Homo sapiens: one gene and its partners. The protein of the gene in region 3 purifies or fractionates together with the protein of the main gene of each other region. This does not show direct contact. Each region holds a gene or a part of one and is shown on either strand. Other genes may lie near its edges.

Region 1 (4,869 bases), on a different chromosome or scaffold from region 3:
ATGCACCGTGCATTGCCAGGTTTCAAAACACGCCCAAGGAAAATGGAGATATGGGACTTGCCTCTGTAATATAAAACAAACAATAAAACTTGATACGTGACAACGGACTTCCAAGAAAATGGTCTTTATAGCAACTGAAATATGTAAATAATTTCTGAGTGGGGCAGAAGTCTTTCAACACAGCCTTGCAATCAACACGTATGGAGATACTAATAGATAGGTGTGTGGGAAGGTAGGTAGGTAAGACATAAAGATTCCTTTTTGTGCTTTTAATAATGAAGTTACAGCACATTCCTTTTTTTTTTTTTTGAGACGAAGTTTTGCTCCATCACCCAGGCTGGAGTGCAATGACATGATCTCGGCTCACAGCAACCTCTGCCTCCTGGGTTCAAGTGATTCTCCTGCCTCAGCCTTCCCAGGAGCTGGAATTACAGGCACGCACCACCACGCCTGGCTAATTTTGTATTTTTAGTAGAGATGGGTTTTTACCATGTTGACCAGGCTGGTCTCGAACTCCTGACCCCAAGCGATCCGTCTGCCTTGGCCTCCTAAAGTGCTGGGATTACAGGCATGAGCCACTGTGCCCGACCCAGAACATTCTTTTTACCAAACCCTTTGGCATATGCTAGACAATGTGACCCATATATATTTTTATATTGATGTATTTGACTAGCATTAGATCATTTAATTCCCACTAGCACCCTAGGAAATGGGTACTAGGGCTATCTCCATGTACTAATGAGAAAACCAGGGCTTAGATGTCAAGAAACTTGCCCAGTGTCACAGCCAGCAAATAGCAGGGCTGGAAATCAAACCCAGGCCCAGGCCAGGTGCGGTGGCTCACGCCTCTAATCCCAGCACTTTGGCAGGCCAAGGCGGACAGATCACCTGAGCTCAAGAGTTCGAGACCAGCCTGACCAATATGGTGAAACCCTGTCTCTACTAAAAATACAAAAAATTAGCTGGGCTTGGTGGCATGCACCCGTAGTCCCAGATACTAGGGAAACTGAGACAGGAGAATTTCTTGAACCTGGCAGGTGGAGGTTGCAGTGAGCCAAGATTGCACCACTGCACTCCAGCCTGGGTGACAGAGCGAGACTCTGTCTCAAAAACAAACAAACAAACAAACAAACAAACAAAAACCCAGGTCCAACTCCAAAACTTATACTCTTAACTCCCAAAGTAAAGTGGTAGGTACTACACAAAAAGTTCTACTTAGGATTCCTAAAGTTACAACACAGATATAAAATTAGGTCACTGTTGTAACCAAAATGATGAGATTGCAGCCAGCAATAAAACTCCAGTAAGTATAAACACCATCAGTGCCAACTGTAAAATTATTCACATGCTGCAGTCTTCCCACTAGCATTGCACAGTGCCCATGCACACAGGAGCAGGCTCTGCTTTCTATTCAAACCTAGCTAACAGCTGCCCATCTCCTCCAGCGGTAAACAACTATGTTGGAAATCCTCTGAGAAAATGTTACCCATGGGAAGCGACAGCTTAGCTCAGCAGGAATACCAGGCAGGGCCTCTAGGAACAGAGAAAGTGTGAGGCTGGATGACATGGGCCTCATCCCTGGAAAAACTGGAGAAGGCGCTGTAGGCAGGGTCAGAAGCAGTGTCTCTGGCGAAGGGCAGGGCAGTTATCTCATCATCTACAACACATTCTTGGATGCCCGGGTGACCAATGCCTGGGAAGATTCTGCTTCGCTAGAAAGCTAGTGCCAGCCTCCGGGACTGGCTCCAGCTCGGGGAAACCACCTTCACAACATGCATGATGTCCAAGGTGGCAAAAATCTGGCCTGGCCTCCTCACTGCTGCCCAAAGAACTTCAAGGGAAGTACCAGGAAGGCTCTGGAAGGACAGCAGCAGCCCAGGGGGTTCCCTAGAACTAGCACACATGTGCAGTAAAGTTCATGGCTCTTCTGAACTGAGATGCAGGCAAAAATTAGCAATAATGGGAAGGAAGAAAAGCAGCAGCTCCTCTTCTCCAGGCAAGTGTGGGTGTGCGCTCTCTGCACTGTATGAGCCACATCGTTATTCAATTGCAGATATGCACATCTGTAATGGTGCCCTTGTACTTTTCCAGTAAATGTGTATACACACAAACAGAAGTTGTTTCCCAAACTTGGCTGGGCGTGTTGGCTCACGCCTGTAATCCCAGCACTTTGGGAGGCCAAGGTGGGCGGATCACCTGAGGCCAGGAGTTCAAAACCAGCCTGGCCAACATGGTGAAACCCCATCTCTACTAAAAATACAAAACATTAGCTGGGTGTGGTGGTGGGCACCTGTAGCAGGAGAATTGCTTGAACCTGGTTGGTGGAGGTTGCAGTGAGCCAAGGTCCCACCACCGCACTCCAGCCTGGGCAACAAGAGCGAAACTCCATCTCAAAAAAGAAAAAAAAAAAGAAATTGTTTCCCAAACCTGATGGAAGCACCTTAGAAGTGAGAATGTAAGACTCACCTTATGTTTTTCGGAGGGTTTCATGTACAAGAAAGGTGAAGGATTTTCATTATTATTTTTTTTTTATAAGACAGGGTCTTGTTCTGTTGCCGAGCGTGACCTTGAACTCCTGGCTCAAGAGATCATCTTGCCTCAGCCTAAGCTGGGACTACAGGTGTGCTCCACTACACCCAGCCTGGAGCTTTCATTATGAAAGGTTGCGTCTTGAATTCATGACTGATCATTCAATATTCACATTATTTAAATTGGCCACACAGTGGATTTCCTGTACTGAAGTTTATCATAATGGACTATTCACATTTATGGGGTCAATATAATGGGTCGTCAGGTTATAAAAGGAATTCTGGGCTGGGCACGGTGGCTCATGCCTATAATCCCAGCACTTTGGGAGGCTGAGGCGTGTGGATCACCTGAGGTCAGGAGTTCAAGACCAGCCTGGCCAACGTGGCAAAACCTCATCTCTAGTAAAAATACAAAAATTAGCCAGGTGTGGTGGTGGGCACTTGTAATCCAGCTATTCGGGAGGCTGAGGCAGGAGAATCGCTTGAACCCGGGAGGCAGAGGTTGCAGTGAGCCGAGATCATGCCACTGCACCCCAGCCTGGGTGACAGAGGGAGACTTCGTCTCAAAAAATAAAAATAATAAAATAAAAGGAATTCTGGACTGGGTATGGTGGCTCATGCCTGTAATCCCAATACTTTGGCAGGCGAAGGCAGGAAGTTCGCTTGAGCCCAGGTATTTGAGACCAATCTGGGCAATGTAGCAAGACCCCATCTCTACAAAAAATACAAAAATTAGCCAAGGTGTGGGTAGTGCATGCCTGTGGTCCCAGCTACTTGCGAGTATCACTCGAGCCCAGGAGTTTGAGGTTATAGTGAGCTATGATCACGCCACTGCACTCTAGCCTGGATGACAGAGCGAGACCCTGTCTTACCAAGTACTGTAAAAATTAAGCCAATTCTGGGTGGATCACTTGAGGTCAGGAGTTTGAGACCAGCCTGGCCAACATGATGAAACCCTGTCTCTACTAACAAACAAAAACTACCTGGGCATGGTGGTGCATGCCTGTAATCTCAGCTACTCGGGAGGCTGAGGCAGGAGAATTGCTTGAACTGGGGAGGCGGAGGTTGCAGTGAGCCATGATTGCGCCACTGCACTCCAGCCCGGGCGATAGGGCGAGACTCCATCTCAAAAAAAAAAAAATTAAGCCAATTCAAATTTAGACCTTATAGTGCACCACGTCAATAAGTAATGGTTAGATAAATACAGACAAATATGATCTTAGAAAAAAAATTTGGAAAAGCCACAAAGATTCACAATTTTATAAAGAAGATAGCCAACGTATTGACAGACCCAGTTATCTGACCTAGCTATTCAGAAGCCCACCAGAAGTTTAACAGCTGCTACTTCTTTCCCACTGTGCCTGCCCTGCCTCTAGCCAGCATCGGCACTCGGGCAGGAGCTCAGACTGCAAGGAGGAGACCTGCACCTGCCCAAAGGACATCCTAAACCTCCTCTTCGTACCAGTATATTGTTCCCACAAATGTCCCTAAGACAACAGGAGCGGTGTCCCCTGTATCTCCCATGCATATTCTTCACCTTTGCACAGAATATAACAACTTGAACTTCTAATTCAAACTGAACTTGAACTGAACTTCTAATGTGGGGACTGCAAAATACATTGGTGTCCCTAAATGCCGCCTGCAGCCAGGACATTGTTTGCTAGAGCCTGTATTTACTTTACACACTCAAAACTCTCTTCACATCTGACCTCTGATTGGATCCTCACAAAACTCGTGTGACATGGAATGACAGGTTCAGACCCACCACCTTACAGATGAGGAAATGGAAACCCAGAAACCCTAGAGGCGGATTCAGTGCCACACCCAGTCTGCATGGGGTAGGGAGTGGGGGCCTCCAAAACCCAGGCCCTCTGGCTGCCCAGTGGTCTGGGAAGCAGCCTGGGAAAGGGAAAGAAAACACACAGATCTGGGTTCAAATCCCAGCTCTACCAATTACTCAGACCTGTGACCTTGAGCAAGTATTTGCCTCACATAAAGTATGCAGGATGCCCTTACCTCCTCCGGCAAACTGCAGGAGGACGTGGCAGCCAGCTCTGACACCTGTTAGGTCTTTACTGCAGGAACACGTTCTTTGTCCCTTTCCAACTGTAGCCCTGTGGTGCCAATGCAAACCCTCTAGGAATGTGGATTTCTCTTCCTACCTGTTGCACCCCCACCCCATGCCAAATCTCAATGCCAGCATTTGATACCTTCTGACTTCGATGTATACCTTTTAGCAATCTGTGGTTGTATTTTGTGCAAACTGTACTGGACATCACATTGAGCCACTGTGTGTATTTGAAGAAGTATAAAGAAACCAGGAAGCCCGGCGTGGTGGCTC
Region 2 (5,458 bases), on a different chromosome or scaffold from region 3:
TTTAAAATGTAAACAATGCTATTTTTTCTAGGGGGAACTAGGAGTGATTTTTTCCTTTTTTGTTTTTGAGATGGGGTTTTGCTCTGTCACCCTGGATGGAGTGCAGTGATGTGATCCCAGCTCACTGCAGTCTTGATCTCCCAGGTTCAAGCGAGTCTCCCACCTCAGCCCCCCAAGTAGCTGGGATTACAGGCAAGAGCCACCACACCCAGCCTCTTTCTTCCTTCTACTTTCTAATGTATCCATAATAAACATTTGATCATAGAATAACTTTCTATAGAAAGATATCTCTTATCTTAGGGGTGTCCAATCTTTTGGCTTCCCTGGGCCACGTTGGAAGAATTGTCTTGGGCCACACATAAAATATACTAATGATAGTGATGAGCTTAAAAAAAAAATCTCAAAAATAAAATTTAAGTTTACGAATTTGTGTTGGGCCACATTCAAAGCCGTCCTGGGCTGCAGGCTGGACAAGCTTCCCTTATCTAGTAGGTTGCTATGAAAAAAATAGAAACACATCTCTCATTCATTGCTAGGATACATCTAGGGGACAAAGGACAGAGAAGCAAGCAGGCAAAAACCCACCTTGAGCAGAAGATGGCACAGAGGAATGGCGGTGGGAATTCTCAGTCTGGTGAGCTGGACAATCCAAGCAGAGGGCAGGCTCTACGTCTCAGAAAGACAGCTTTTCTGTCTTATCTCCTATGAATAAGTTTCGAGCAGCCTGGGAGTTGAATGATCTCTTTGAACAGATGTTCCTGCTGCTTCCCCATCAACCTCCCTCATACACATGTACGCCATAAAGTTTAAATTTACTATCATGGTGGCCATAGACAATGTTAGGTAGCTCCATAAAGACAGACGGGGTGTTTCATTCTTAACTGTGATCTTAGTAACTAGCACAGTACTGGGCACTTAGTAAATATCTACTGATCTAAATAGTGTGGTTTGAGGCCTCTTGTTCCTGGCTAAAAATCCTTGGCAAGAGTCAATCTCCACTTTACAATAGAGGTAAAAATCTTACAATGGATATTCTTGACAAAGCTAGCATAGAGACAGCAATTTTACACAAGGTATTTTTCACCTGTTTAATAACAGTGGTTTTCCTACACCCATAGGGTGCCACCAAGGGAGGAGTGCACAGTTGCAGAAACAAATTAAGATACTGAAGACAACACTACTTACCATTTCCCGTATAGCTAACCACCAGTTCAACTGTACATGTATGTTCTTATGGGCAATCATGCCAGGGGTTAGGCAAAAACCTGTGTTCTGAACCAAAGAAGACTTAAAACTGCTCCCATAATTTGTGAATTTCTTGAAATTTTGCGGTTTTTTGAAAATTTTTTAACAACTGGTAATCAATTTATGAAAACAGTTGACTTAAGCATTTGCAATGGTGACTTCCATCTCAACTCCTGGCTCAATACTGATGGAAGTAATCTGCTTAACTATCTGAGGACTGCGCAAGTCAATGAGTCGCTTGTGGATTCTCATCTGGAAACGATCCCATGCCTTAGAACCTTCACCGTAAGTTTTTCTTGTAGTGATTCTCAAAGTCTTGGTAGGCATTCAAACTGGTCCTTTCACTGATTCTTTTCCTTTGCTCCTCAGATCAAGTCAGCACACACCTTATCCAGGGATTTTACGTTGCAACTCGTTAGAGTGATATGAATTCGGTGAATTGCCACCTCTGACTCCACGGGTGTTTTTCTGGTATGTTTAAAAGCCATGGCTGCTGCAAGGCTTCCTAGCCAGCTTCCTGACAGACTTGGTCCTCAGGCAACAGCAAAGAGCAGTGAGTCAGGAGCAGGAGCAGGTGGACCACAGCTCCGCACCACCTATGACTGTGTCTTCCTCAAAGAGAAAATGTCTTTTAATGTCGGAAAATATTTATACACTTAGAAAAATCCATACACAAAGAATAAAGCAACTCTCCCATTTGCTACTGACATCAGATCCCCAGTTTAGAGTCAACCACAGTAACACAGAACTCTTATACTAGCATGAACATATTTATTCACATACCTTTCTAAAACACGAATGGTAGATACTACATTTTGGTTTTCAAACATAGCTTGTTTTATTATAAACAAACATCATTCTCTGGAAATTAAAAGCTTTGATAATTTCAAATTATTTTTAACAATCAGTCACTAACGGAATGCAAAAGGCAATTTTATTATTATACATTAAAACGTAAATCACATTTGAGCACGAACACTAACAAATAGGCTCATTTGTCATCTTTATGCCGTTTCTCTTCACTGGTTTCTTCCATATACAAAATAAATTCTTCTTTGTCATAACCCATTAGATGGATATAGTCTTCACGGTTTGGAAAGAGCACTGGATTAACTAACAGTGATTTTGTTTTAGCATAAAATGTGGTAAATACATGTTTAGCATCTGGAATCTTCACATCATTCTGGTGAAACACTGTACTCGTTTCTGCAAGCATAGCATTGTAGGTAATGGCTTTATAAGTGTCTGTTGTGGCCTCATGGTACAATCGAATGACATAGCCTTTTGTAATAAAGTGAAGCAGCACTGGGGTGATCACCGTAAAGCTTCCCATGATGCCATAGAATATGATTTGAATAGGCAGAGGCACACTTTCAGAAATAGCATTATTTTGTGTAAAAATGTATGGCAGAAATGTAAGGCCAATCAGACTCGTAGAATAAGAGAAACATTTCACACCTAAATGGGAAAAAAAGAGAGAGGATCAATACTTTTAAATTTTATAAAAGAATCAATCTATCCCACTAATTCTTCCATTTTTCTTCTTACTGTATCAGCTCAAGACAACAAAATCAAACCATAAATACAGTGCTTATTATATTCTAAGCTCTGTTTTAAGGACTTTACATATTTTGACTTCAATGTCCCTGCTACTGACCATTAGAATGCACTGCCTCTCCAGGCAGGAAATCTGCTTTAGGGTTTAAGTGGCCCTACCTCAGTTCCACAATAAAGTAGTTAATATTACTTAAAGATCCTTACTAATATTGTACTACAAAAGTTGATTCAGATAGCAGATTATCAAACAAAACTCTCTATTAACAAGCACTCCAGTATATCTAACATAAAATATTCAAACATGGGAAATTCTATCAGGCTAAGTGCCCAGGATTAAAACAGCAAATCACCAGAGAAATAAAACCAGTGGTTAAAAAACATATCGGACGGCCAGGCGCATTGGCTCATGCCTGTAATCCCAGCACTTTGGGAGGCTGAGGCAGGTGGGTCATTTGAGGTTAGGAGTTCGAGACCAGCCTGGCCAACATGGTGAAACTCCCATCTCTACTAACAATACAAAAATTAGCTGGGCATGGTGGCAAGTGCTTGTAATCCCAGCTATTCAGGAGGCTGAGGCAGGAAAATCCTTGAACCCAGGAGGTAGAGGCTGCAGTGAGCCAAGACTGCACACTGCACTCCAGCTTGGGAGACAAAGCGAGACTCCATCTCAAAAAAAAAAAACAGAAACATATGGGAAAGGTATTCAATTTCTTTAGTAAGGAAAGACATTCAAGTTAAAACAATGAGATAAGCAGCCTGGCCAGCATGGCGAAATCCTGTCTCTACTAAAAATACAAAAATTAGCCAGGCTTGGTGGCATGCACCTATAATCCCAGCTACTGGGGGTGCTGAGGCAGGAGAATTGCTTGAACCTGGGAGGTGGAGGTTGCAGTGAGCCCAGATTGTGCCACTGCACTCCAGCCTGGGCAACAAGAGCAAAACTCCGTCTCAATAAATAAATAATAAAAAATACAAAAAAAACACTGAGATACCATTTTTACCTATTACCTTAGAAAGATTAAAAATAAATGACTTCTAGCAGAGTGCAGTGGCTCATGCCTGTAATCTCAGCACTTTGGAAGGTGTAGGCAGAAGGACTGCTTGAGACCAGTTTGAGACCAGCCTAGGCACCATAGGAAGACCTGTCTCTACAAAAAAAATTTTTTTTAATTAGCCAAGGCTGGTCTGATGGTAATGAGTTATCAGAACTTAACACTGGCATCACTAAAGTTGGTATACAATGTCCCCACTGCTAAATTTGACTAGCTTAAAAAAAAAAAAATCAGCCAGGTGTAGTGGCACATGTCTGTAGTCCTAGCTATTTGGGAGGCTGAGGTGGGAGGATCACTCGAGCCCACAAGTTTGAAGTTGCAGTGAACTATGATCACACCACTGCACTCCAGCCTAGATGACAGAGACCCTGTCTCTAAAAAATAAAAATTATTTTTAAAAAATGGCTTCTAAACTGTATACTTCAAAATGATTAAAGTGAAAAATTTTATGTTTATCTAACCACAATAAAAAATGACTTAAAATGTAAATTTACCTTACCTTTAATTTATAATTTTAATACGATCCTAATAAAAAATACCATCTGTTTGGAAAATAAAGTTGAGATCCTAAACAAGTTGATTATAAAGTTTATTTGGAAAAACAAAAGCAGCAAAAAATAAAAAAATAAAGCAATGAGGGGAAGTTACCCCTTCGAAATATTAAAACATAATAGAGGCCGGGCGTGGTGGCTCACGCCTGTAATCCCAATACTTTGGGAGGCCGAGGTGGGTGGGTTACTTGAAGTGAGGAGTTCAAGACCAGCCTGACCAACATGGTGAAACCCTGTCTCTACTAAAAATACAAAAATTGGCCAAGTGTGGTGGTGCATACCTGTAATCCCAGCAGGAGGCTGAGCCAGGAGAATCGCTTGAACATGGGAGGCGAAGAGTATGGTGAACCAAGATCATGCCACTGCACTCCAGCCTGGACAACAGAGTGAGACTCTGTCTCAAATAAAAATCTAAAAATGCAAAGGTCTCTACATCTTATCAACACACCTCAAGAAAAAAAAATGAAAATCTAATTTTCCTTACGTCTTGTAATTAAGGGATGCCATAACAACAAGTAAGATATGGTAAGGATATTTTTACAATTAAAAGAGAAAAAAACAAAGTAAGTACACCCACCTCCAATTACTTACCAAACACTGCTCGGGCCATATTGCCAGTATAAATTAGCCTTCCATCTTCTGATTTGTCAGATGGCGTATTTAAGAATCGAACATATCCTTCCCAATAAACAGGGATCTATTGAAACAGGGATCATTATGGTCAACTAACCTTCTTAAATTTTTTTAAGTTTTTTTTTTTGAGACAGAGTCTTGCTCTGTCTCCCAGACTGGAGGGCAGTGGTGCGATCTCAGCTCACCATTGCAACCTCTGCTTCCCGGGTTCAAGCAATTCTCCTGCCTCAGTCTCCTGAGTAGCTGGGATTACAGGTGCCCACCACCACACCCGGCTAATTTCTGTATTTTTATTAGAGACGGGGTTTCACCATGTTGGCCAGACTGGTCTTGAACTCTTGACCTCAAGTGATCTGCCACCTTGGCCTCCCAAAGTGCTGGGATTACAGGCATGAGCCACCATGCCCAGCTTAAGTTTAT
Region 3 (4,871 bases):
ATCCTTGAACAGGGTTGGGGACCAGGTGGCTTCTAAGCCATCCTTCATGCTTTGGCCTGTGCTGCCTGGAGGGGACTCAGCTTGTGACTTCTGCACACACCGATGACCATGCCCCTGCAGCCGGCCTGGTTCTTAGAACTTGCCTCTCAGGTTGGCATCAGTGAGGGACTGGCTTGGTTTGGTGATGAGATGGAAGTTGCTCATACCCTGGAAGCTCCTGTCTGGGGTGGCTGCTCTCTGATCTCGCCGTCTATTTGAGATAAGTAACTGAGTAGAGGCGTAACAGGTGTCCCCTCTAACTTGAGCAGGGAGCAGCAGGCCCAGGACAGTGTCCAAGAGCAGGTGGGCCTGGGAGCAGCTCAGGGCACTCTCTCCCCGGTCCCTGACAGAAGATGGAGGGAGAGGACACTCACCGTTTGGTTTACTTGCTCCGTACGCAATCAGCAAGCAGGAAACCGCGAAGCAGGCGCTAAAACCAAGCAGAAACGCAATGTTATTTACCATTATGACTTTATTCAGTGTTATTGTTTTGTTTTTGTTTTTGGTTTTTGGTTTTTCTTGAGACAGAGCCTTGCTCTGTCACCCGGGCTGGAGTGCAGTGGCGCGATCTCGGCTCACTGCAACCTCCGCCTCCCAGGTTCAAGCATTTCTCCTGCCTCAGCCTCCCAAGTAGCTGGGATATTACAGGCGCCCACCACCACGCGTGGCTAATTTTTTTATTTTTAGTGGAGACAGGGTTTCACCATGTTGGCCAGGCTGGTCTCGAACTCCTGGCCTCAGGTGACCCACCCAACTCTGCCTCCCAAAAAGCTGGGATTACCAGTGTAAGCCACCGTGCCCAGCCCATTTTCATTTATATTTTTGTATATGTATTATAAAGCACATTAAGAATGGCATAGGGGGCCGGGAGCCACTGCACTCCAGCTCCAGTTGCTTGGGCAACAACAGCAAAACTCCAACTCAAAAGGAAAAAAAAAAAAAAAAGAATGGCATAGGGGCCAGGCACGATGGCTCACGCCTGTAATCCCAGCACTTTGGGAGGCCGAGGCGGGCAGATCACAAGGTCAGGAGATCGAGACCATCCTGGCTAACACAGTGAAACCCCGTCTCTACTAAAAATACAAAAAATTAGCCGGGCGTGGTGGCAGGCGCCTGTGGTCCCAGCTACTCGGGAGGCTGAGGCAGGAGAATAGCGTGAACCCGGGAGGCGGAGCTCGCAGTGAGCCGAGATCGCGCCGCTGCACTCTAGCCTGGGCGACAGAGGGAGACTCCATCTCAATAAATAAATAAATAAATAAATAAATAAATAAATATGAAAAATATAAAAATTAGCTGGGTGTGGTGGCAGGCGCCTGTAATCCCAGCTACTCGGGAGGGTGAGACAGGAGAATTGCTTGAACTGGGGAGGCAGAGGTTGCCGTGAGCCGAGATCACGCCACTGCACTCCAGCCTGGGCGACACAGCAAGACTCCGTCTTGAAAAAAAAAAAAAAAAAAAGAGCACAGATATACATCATTTATAATTCCATGTGCTTATTATATTGGGGGTACGTGTTGAAAATCTTTTTTCTGGTGGAGCTATAAGGTCAAACGGGCTGTGGAAACCAGTGTTGTTGGTTTTTTTTCTCATCAGATGGATACTGTGCCAGCTTCGTAACAAGGTTTGAGGGAAGCATGTCTCACACATGCGAGGGAAACCCCAATTATCATGCTTATGAACTACAAAGGGATGGGAAACACATGTTCTTAGTGACAAGCAGCTCCGGTCCCTGGGCGGCCTGGAGCCTGGAGCTTTTCTTATTCGGTACTGGAGCACGGCGAGGACCACAGTACCTGCTGATTCGGTGGCGGACGGGGTAGGAACTCCATTCTGGAGGGCCTTCAGGGAGCTCCACAGTACACCTGATATCAGGTACGACCAGGATACCCTTCTGTGGGGAACTCAGCCCAGGGGGTCCACCTGCCCACTCCCTGCCCCCTAAGGGACCCACACTGACCTGCCCAGCAGCCTGAGCTTCCTCGGGCCATACTTGTCCATGACGATACCCAGGGGCAGGGTGATGGCACTGAGCAGAAAGGAGCCCACAGTGAAGGCCAAATTTAGCATCTCGTCCTGGGCCTGGCAGCTGAGCCAGCCGTTCATCCAGCTCACCTCCTCGTGCCCCGGCTCTGCTGTGCCGCCCACTGTGCCATTGGTGACATTCTCTGTGTGAAGAGGGAAGGAAACCCTGACCTCAGGGTCATGACAGGGATTCCCAAAGATCAGAAGGGCAGGTGCCCATTCAGAGTCCCCCCACTGGGAATGCCAGGGCTGGCTGGCGGCCTCTCGAGGGCTCAGGCTACCCCGCAGCAGGCTTGGATGGCCATTTGGCCCAAGTCCCCTGGAGTGAAAATGTAGAGGTTCTTAACTTTTGTGGGGGCCATGGACCCTTTGAAAAATCCAATAAAGACCTCCCCAGAAAATGCACACCAAGGTTTATCCACAGTTTCAGGAGCTTTGTGTGTCCCTTGAAGAGCAACGAAGCCCAGGCTGAGAGTCCCATTCGAGAGCATCCGCCACCCTAGAACGGCAGACCTCAGGGCCCAGCCTTGGCTGTGGGGCCCCAGGCTGGTGAGAACCTTCTCACGGCAGCTATGTCCGTGGGGACAGACTGCAGCCAGTATGGAGGCAGAACCCAGACCACTTGGGAAGCACAAGCACTGGTCTCACCCCAATAGCCTGGTTCTCCTCTGTCCATGTGGGGAGACTGCGGCGCCTCCTTCAATGGGAAGTCCAGCTGCCTTCTCAAACATAGAACAGATGCCACCTTCTCCCCCTGATATTTTCTTTTTCTTTTTTTTTTTGAGGCGGAGTCTCACTCTGTTGCCCAGGCTGGAGTGCAGTAGCACGATCTCGGCTCACTGCAACCTCCGCCTCCCGGGTTCAAGCAATTCTCCTGCCTCAGCCTCCCGAGTAGCTGGGATTACAGGCACCTGCCACCGCGCCCGGCTAGTGTTTGTATTTTTAGTAAAGATGGGGTTTCATCATGTTGCCCAGGCTGGTCTCGAACTCCTGACCTCAGGTGATCCTCTCACCTCTGCCTCCCAAAGTGCTGGGATCACAGGCGTGAGCCGCCACACCCAGCCGATATGCACCTTTCTTATTTTCCTTGCCGGGGTCACAGTGGTGCCATCCCGTGGCCATGCCTAGACCTCGCTGGGTGCTGAGTCTGGTGTGTTTGCCACACCCAGCCCTTAATGGCCCCCTTCAAAGTCCACCCAGCACCAAAACAACACAGAAAGGAAGAGAAAAGTGCTGTGGCAGCTGAAGATGGGAGGGTGGAGGACGGGCTGGGAACGTGGCTGAGGAGCTCTCCTGGCCGGGACTGCTAGTTAAGAGATGCTGACTAATCCTGCAGAAAACAGGAGCCGACTTTGATTAGACATGAGGTCACGCTGGGAGAGTCAAGGAAACGCTCTTCTTCCGGTAACTGCCTGCCTTCCAATTGCAGCCCTCTGGCGCCAGGGCTGTAGCGCCGAGGTTTGCAAAAGCTTGCTCAGGCCTCTCGGGGTTCCTCCAAGGTTACTGGAAAGGATGCGCACAGGTGGACTCGTGCTTCATGCCAACGTGTGGCCAAGGAGCCCCGCCGGGGCCGTGTGGATGAAGAGCGTGGAACTGGAATCTGGTTTCTAGCTTCCAGTGTTTGATTCTCCACTTTCTACCTGCATGACCTTGCTCTAGCTCAGTTTCCTTGTCCATAACATGGACATCATATAATGATAAGATCCACCTCCTAGAGTGTGGGGGAAGATCAATGAGAAAAATTCAGAAAACCTTCTGGAGCTCACCCAGGCATAGAAAGCACTCAATAATGAATAGCTACAAGTTGCTGCTGTTCTCGTGGTTATCATGATCATTGCTGCTATTGGAGGCTCCGGCGGGGAATCACGGCACCATCAGCTGGCACAGAGCCGGATGCAGTGGCTGTGGGGAGCACAGTCCCGTCAGCGTGTGTGGAAGCGCAAAGACATGTCTAATCCCCCACTGGGCTGTGAGCCCCGAAGGGCAGGGCCTGCACTGTGGTCACTTCTGTGTCCCCAGTATCTCACCCAGGTCTTGGCCTACAATAGCTGTTTACTGAATAAATAAAAACAACAGGGCCAGGTGTGGCGGCTCATGCCTGTAATCCCAGCACTTTGGGAGGCAGAGGCGGGTGGATCGCCCGAGGTCAGGAGTTCAAGACCAGCCTGGCCAACATGGTGAAGCCCCGTCTCTACTAAAAATTCAAAAATTAGCCAGGCATGGTGGCGCATGCCTGTAATCCCAGCTACTCAGGAGGCTGAGGCAAGAGAATCATTGAACCCGGTAAACGGAGGCTGCAGTGAGCCAAGATCACACACCACTGCACTCCAGCCTGGGCAAATAGTTAGACTCTGTCTCAAAAAAAACAAAAAACAAACAAACAAACAAACAGAATCAGGCCGGGTACAGTGGCTCAGTCTGTAATCCCAGCCCTTCGGGAGGCCAAGGTGGGTGGATCACCTAAGGCCAGGAGTTCAAGACCAGCCTGGCCAATATGGTGAAACCCCATCTCTACTAAAAATACAAAAATTAGCCGGGCATGGTGGGCGTCTATAATCACAGCTACTCGGGAGGCTGAGACAGGAGAATTGCTTGAAGCCGGGAGGCGGAGGTTGTGGTAAGCTGAGATCACACCACTGCACTCCAGCCTGGGCAACAGAGTGAGACCCCGTCTCGAAAAACAAAACAGAACAAAACAAAACAAAAACAATGGCACCAGATCACAATGGCCAAAAAGATCGAGAGAGGAATCAACAGAACCACGTTGAATCGAGGGGGGATTTAAGGAGATCAGAGCCACGAGGTTAACC
Region 4 (4,869 bases), on a different chromosome or scaffold from region 3:
AAAAAAAAAAAATTAGTTAAGAATGGCATCCAACCAGAACAACTACATAAATGTATGTGCAGAAGTGGAAATTAAGCTAGCTAGTGCTGATGTCAGGGGCTGCAGGATTTCCACTCAAGTACCTCCAACAGCAGAGAATGAATGAATGCACTGTTTTCGAGTATTGCCTACCACAAGCTTGAGCCCTCTTTCGAGTGTCATGGTTTACTACTGTTACATAGGTCTTTCTCCACCTTGTGTATACTTTGATCTTGGCTCACCACAACCTCCGCTTCCTGGGTTCAAGCGATTCTACTGCCTCAGCCTCCCAAGTAGCTGGCATTAGCTGCGCCTCCACACCCAGCTAATTTTTGTATTTTTAGCAAGGCGGAGTTTCACCATGTTGGCCAGGCTGGTCTCGAACTCCTGACCTCAAGATCTATCTGCCTTGGCCTCCCAAAGTGCTGGGATTACAGGCGTGTGCCACCGCGCCCGGCCCGTAAATTATTTTTTAAAGTCAAAAACAGTATAACCTATGTATCCCCTCACTGGTTCTTTTTCCCAGTTCTGTAATACCTTGAATTCACTTCAAAAGTGATTTCTTAGGCCAGGTGCGGTGGCTCATGCCTGTAATCGCAGCACTTTAGGAGGCCAAGGCGGGCAGATCAATTAAGGCCAGGAGTTTGAGACCAGCCTAGCCAACATGGTAAAACCCCATCTCTACTAAAAATAAAAAAATTATCTGGGTATGGTGGCACATGCCTGTAATCCCAGCTACTCAGGAGGCTGAGGCAGGAGAATCGCTTGGACTCAGGAGGCAGAGGTTGCAGTGAGCCGAGATTGCACCACTGCACTCCAGCCTGGGTGACAGAGTGAAACTCATCTCAAAAAAAAAAAAGTAATTTCTTAATTTCTCAAAGGGCAATTCTCTACATCTCAAGCAAGCCACAGATAAAAAAAAAAACAAGGCTGGGAACAGGAGCTCACAACCGTAATCCCAACACTTTGGGAGGCCCAGGTGAGTGGAACACTCGAGCCCAGGAATTCAAGACCAGCCTGGGCAACATGGCCAAACCTCATCTCTACAAAAAAAATACAAAAAATTAGCCAGATCTGATGGCACGTGCCTGTAGTCCCAGCTACACAGAGGCTAAGGTAGGCAGATCCCCTGAGCCCAGGAGGTCCAGGCTGCAGTGAGCCATGATCACACCACTGCACTCCAGCCTGGGTGACAGAGTGAGACCTGTATCAAAAAAAAAAAAAAAAAAAAGAGGGCCGGGCACAGTGGCTCACGCCTATAATCCCAACACTTTGGGAAGCCGAGACAGGCAGATCACAAGGTCAGGAGTTTGAGACCAGCCTGGCTAACACGGTGAAACCACATCTCTACTAAAAATACAAAAAATTAACCAGGCATGGTGGCATGTGCCTGTAGTCCCAGCTACTCAGGAGGCTGAGGCAGGAGAATCACTTGAACCTGGGAGGCAGATGTTGCAGTAAGCCGAGATCCCGCCACTGCACTCCAGCCTGGGCGACAAAACGAGACTCTATCTCAAAAAAAAAAAAGAAAAGAAAAGAAAAACAATACACACAAGCAGGGCTGATGCCATCAGAACTTGATCTGCCTGCTGAGTATGCAGCACCATGCCACCCACCTTCTATAAAGTGACTGGCCGTCTCTACGCAAATTCTATATATTTCCTTGGTTGTGTATTGCCTGTCTCTCCACTAGAATATATATTCTTTGAGGACAAGGACATGTTGTAGGTCCTATACTCTCAACATAGAACAATGCCTAGCACCTAACAGGTATTCAATATTGGGTGAATGAATGAATGGCTACTTAAAAACATTATGCACTGTAGATGGACTTAAGGTACCCACGGGAAAGGCATTTAAGGAACTGACCTAAGAATGATGTTGAGAAAGAAAGAAACCCCAAACTACCATGAGTTATAGAAACCAGAGCATATCCTGCTTAGCTTTCTTTTTTTTTTTTTTAGACAGTCTGGCTCTGTCCCCCAGGCTAGAGTGTAATGGCACGATCGTGGCTCACTGCAACCTCTGCCTCCCAGGTTCAAGTGATTCTCCTGCCTCAGGCTCACAAGTAGCTGGGATTACAGGCATGCACCACCACGCCGGCTAAATTTTTATATTTTTTGTAGAGACAGGGTTTTACCATGTTGGTCAGGCTGGTCTCAAACTCCTGACCTCAGGTGATCCACCAGCCTCAGCCTCCCAAAATTCTGGGATTAGAGGCATAAGCCACTGTGCCCAGCCCTGCTTAACTCATATTTGTCCTGTTCAATACCTGGTCATATGACATGTTTTGTTTTGTTTTGTTTTTCCCCTCAAGATGGAATCTTGTTCTGTCACCCAGGCTGGAGTGTAATGATGCGATCCTGGCCTCCAGTACCTAAAACTGTAAAGCAGCATAAAAATTAGCATGTGCTAGCCGGGCACAGTGGCTCATGCCTGCAATCCCAACACTTTGGGAGGCTGAGGCAGGCGGATCACGAGGTCAGGAGATCAAGACCATCCTGGCTAACACAGTGAAACCCCGTCTCTACTAAAAATACAAAAAATTAGCCAGGCACAGTGGCAGGCACCTGTAATCCCAGCTATTCGGGAGTCTGAGGCAGGAGAATCGCTTGAACCAGGGAGGCAGAGGTTGCAGTGAGCCGAGATGGTGCCACTGCACTCCAGCCCGGGCGACAGAGCAAAACTCCATCTCAAAAAAAAAAAAAAAAAAAATTAGCACATGCCGGCCAAGCTCGGTAGCTCACACCTGTAATCCCAGCACTTTGGGAGGCCGAGGCAGGTGGATCACCTGAGGTCAGGAGTTCGAGACCAGCCTGGCCAAGAGGGTGAAACCCCATCTCTACTAAAAATACAAAAATTAGCTGGGCGTGGTGGCAGGCATCTGTAATCCCAGCTACTCGGGAGCCTGAGGCAGGAGTATCGCTTGAACCCAAGAGGCAGAGGTTGCAGTGAGCCAATATCGAACCATTGCACTCCAGCCTAGGCAACAAGCGAAACTCCATCTCAAAAACAAAAAAACAAAAAAACTAAAAAACTAGAACATGCCAACAGCTTTAAAAATACAGATTGTACCTTTCAAAATTAGACTGGCTATTTTATGTTAGTCTTCCTGATTACCAAAGTGATACATATTCACACGCATTAAAAAAACTGTTTAAATATAGAAAAGCATAAGGACGAAAAAGAGGCACCTGAATTCTCACTACCCAAAACAGTGCTAGAATGTAAATTCTTGGAATATGGAACTTTTACTCTACTTCAGGCTGCTGGTTCACTGAAAACATGTCACTATTAAAGGCCATTTAAGTTTTCTGATCCTTTCTACAAGCTCTTGTACACATTATCTCAATTCATATACACAACACCAGCACAGCATAGAGATTAAGAGTGAAGACTCAAAGGCCAGACTGCCTGGGTGGCAACTCCAGCTATACCACTTACTATGTGGGTGAACTTGCCTTTTAAAACCTCTCTACACCGCCACCTTCTGCATCTGTTTAAAGAAGCTAAAAACAGTACCTACCAGAGTAAGTTGTCATAAGAATTCAAGGCATCTAACAGTATCTGGCAACACTAAAGAAGCATTTGCAAAATACACTTCAGAAGCAAAAATAAACCAACCTTTCAATATCCAAGCAAATAGTCTGCATAGTTTCTACAAAACATTTTGCCTAACAATGTTATAAACAGGCCTTGCTGTGAGGTAGAAAATGCTTACAAGAAATCATAATTCCTAAAGTTCATCAAGTTTAATTTAACCTAAATTAAAAGATCTTAGGTTAAATGGAAGGAAAAAAAATTACCTCATGAACTTGTCTAACACGTCCTCTACCCACATGTGCATACGGAGGGATTGAAATCCATAGCGCCAAACTAATTTAATCACGTTAATTATGAACCAGTTGCTCTCCTCAAATACCAGAGTCTCTCCATTATATATCCCCAGTAGGCCACCAGAGGCCTGAACAGCAGAGAGACCTGCAAAAACATAAAGCACAGCTAAGTCAGTGGTGTCTATGCTGATCAAATGAAAGAACGTAATCTGAGTGAATTTGGGGCTTCCCTCAGTTCTCAGGAGACACATAAAGGAGCTCTATCTTTGGAACAGTGTGAAACACTATACTTTCACTACACTGTCCAAAAGCAGATTTGCTAGGCGATGGGTCAGATGATCATGTAAATATTAATATATCAAAAGTAGATATATTTTTACCTGGCTATTTTTAGACTAAAAGTCTAAAAAAACTGGATAGTCAAAGGAAAAAAGCCAGAGTACCAACTGAATTCAATTTAAAAACAAAGATGTCAGACATGCATCTTCGTGGCATAATTTGTTCTGGGTATACCTTCGCCCTCGTGGAGGAAACGGAAGCAGAGGCAGCATCTACAGAGGATGTGGAAGGCAGCTGAGGCACTTCCATTCCTGTGAGAATCCTATTTTGCAAAACTGGATATTTCAGATAACTGGAAGGAGGCCAAAGTTACAAAATACTCCCTGCCGAAAGGGCCTCCAGAGGCCTGTCAGACTTTCCCCATGACCTATCCAGCTCCTCTGCTGTCAGGGCAGCAGTTGCACATCCCAAGTTCTAGGCACGTGTCTGCATCCACAGCTGTGTGACGGAGTTTGTTTTGTTGGTGGTGGTTTGTTTTGATAGGGTCTCACTTTGTTGCCCAGGCTGGAGTGCAGTGGCATGCAAGGCTCACTGCAGCTTCTATCTCCCAGGCTCAAGGGATCCTCCTGCCTCTGCCTCCCAAGAAGCTGGGACTACAGGTTTGTGCCATCACACCAGGCTAACTTTTTTATTTTTAGTAAAGACAGGATCTCACTATGTTGCCCAGACTGGTTTC

Evidence for each region. Proteins that work in one complex are often made in the same cells at the same time.
Region 1: the proteins of SLC43A2 (region 3) and CPT1A purify together in Homo sapiens (affinity purification with mass spectrometry; one large-scale study listed by BioGRID and IntAct). This does not show direct contact.
Region 2: the proteins of SLC43A2 (region 3) and TMEM70 purify together in Homo sapiens (affinity purification with mass spectrometry; one large-scale study listed by BioGRID and IntAct). This does not show direct contact.
Region 4: the proteins of SLC43A2 (region 3) and PCYOX1 purify together in Homo sapiens (affinity purification with mass spectrometry; one large-scale study listed by BioGRID and IntAct). This does not show direct contact.

The regions. Positions count from the first base shown.
Region 1 is NC_000011.10:68,831,343-68,836,211, forward strand, and holds part of CPT1A (carnitine O-palmitoyltransferase 1, liver isoform), read right to left. Parts: intron 1-4,869. UniProt on the Homo sapiens protein: Catalyzes the transfer of the acyl group of long-chain fatty acid-CoA conjugates onto carnitine, an essential step for the mitochondrial uptake of long-chain fatty acids and their subsequent beta-oxidation in the mitochondrion.
Region 2 is NC_000008.11:73,978,400-73,983,857, reverse strand, and holds the end of TMEM70 (transmembrane protein 70, mitochondrial), read right to left. Parts: intron 5,103-5,458; coding exon 4,997-5,102; coding exon of another isoform or gene 4,989-4,996; exon of another isoform or gene 4,983-4,988; intron 4,780-4,982; exon of another isoform or gene 4,687-4,779; intron 2,704-4,686; coding exon 2,237-2,703; 3' UTR 1,075-2,236; downstream 1-1,074. UniProt on the Homo sapiens protein: Scaffold protein that participates in the c-ring assembly of mitochondrial ATP synthase (F(1)F(0) ATP synthase or complex V) by facilitating the membrane insertion and oligomer formation of the subunit c/ATP5MC1 through its interaction.
Region 3 is NC_000017.11:1,614,566-1,619,436, forward strand, and holds part of SLC43A2 (large neutral amino acids transporter small subunit 4), read right to left. Parts: intron 2,205-4,871; coding exon 1,997-2,204; intron 1,731-1,996; exon of another isoform or gene 1,627-1,730; intron 470-1,626; coding exon 414-469; intron 1-413.
Region 4 is NC_000002.12:70,260,342-70,265,210, reverse strand, and holds part of PCYOX1 (prenylcysteine oxidase 1 precursor), read right to left. Parts: intron 4,000-4,869; coding exon 3,825-3,999; intron 1-3,824. UniProt on the Homo sapiens protein: Prenylcysteine oxidase that cleaves the thioether bond of prenyl-L-cysteines, such as farnesylcysteine and geranylgeranylcysteine. Only active against free prenylcysteines and not prenylcysteine residues within prenylated proteins or peptides.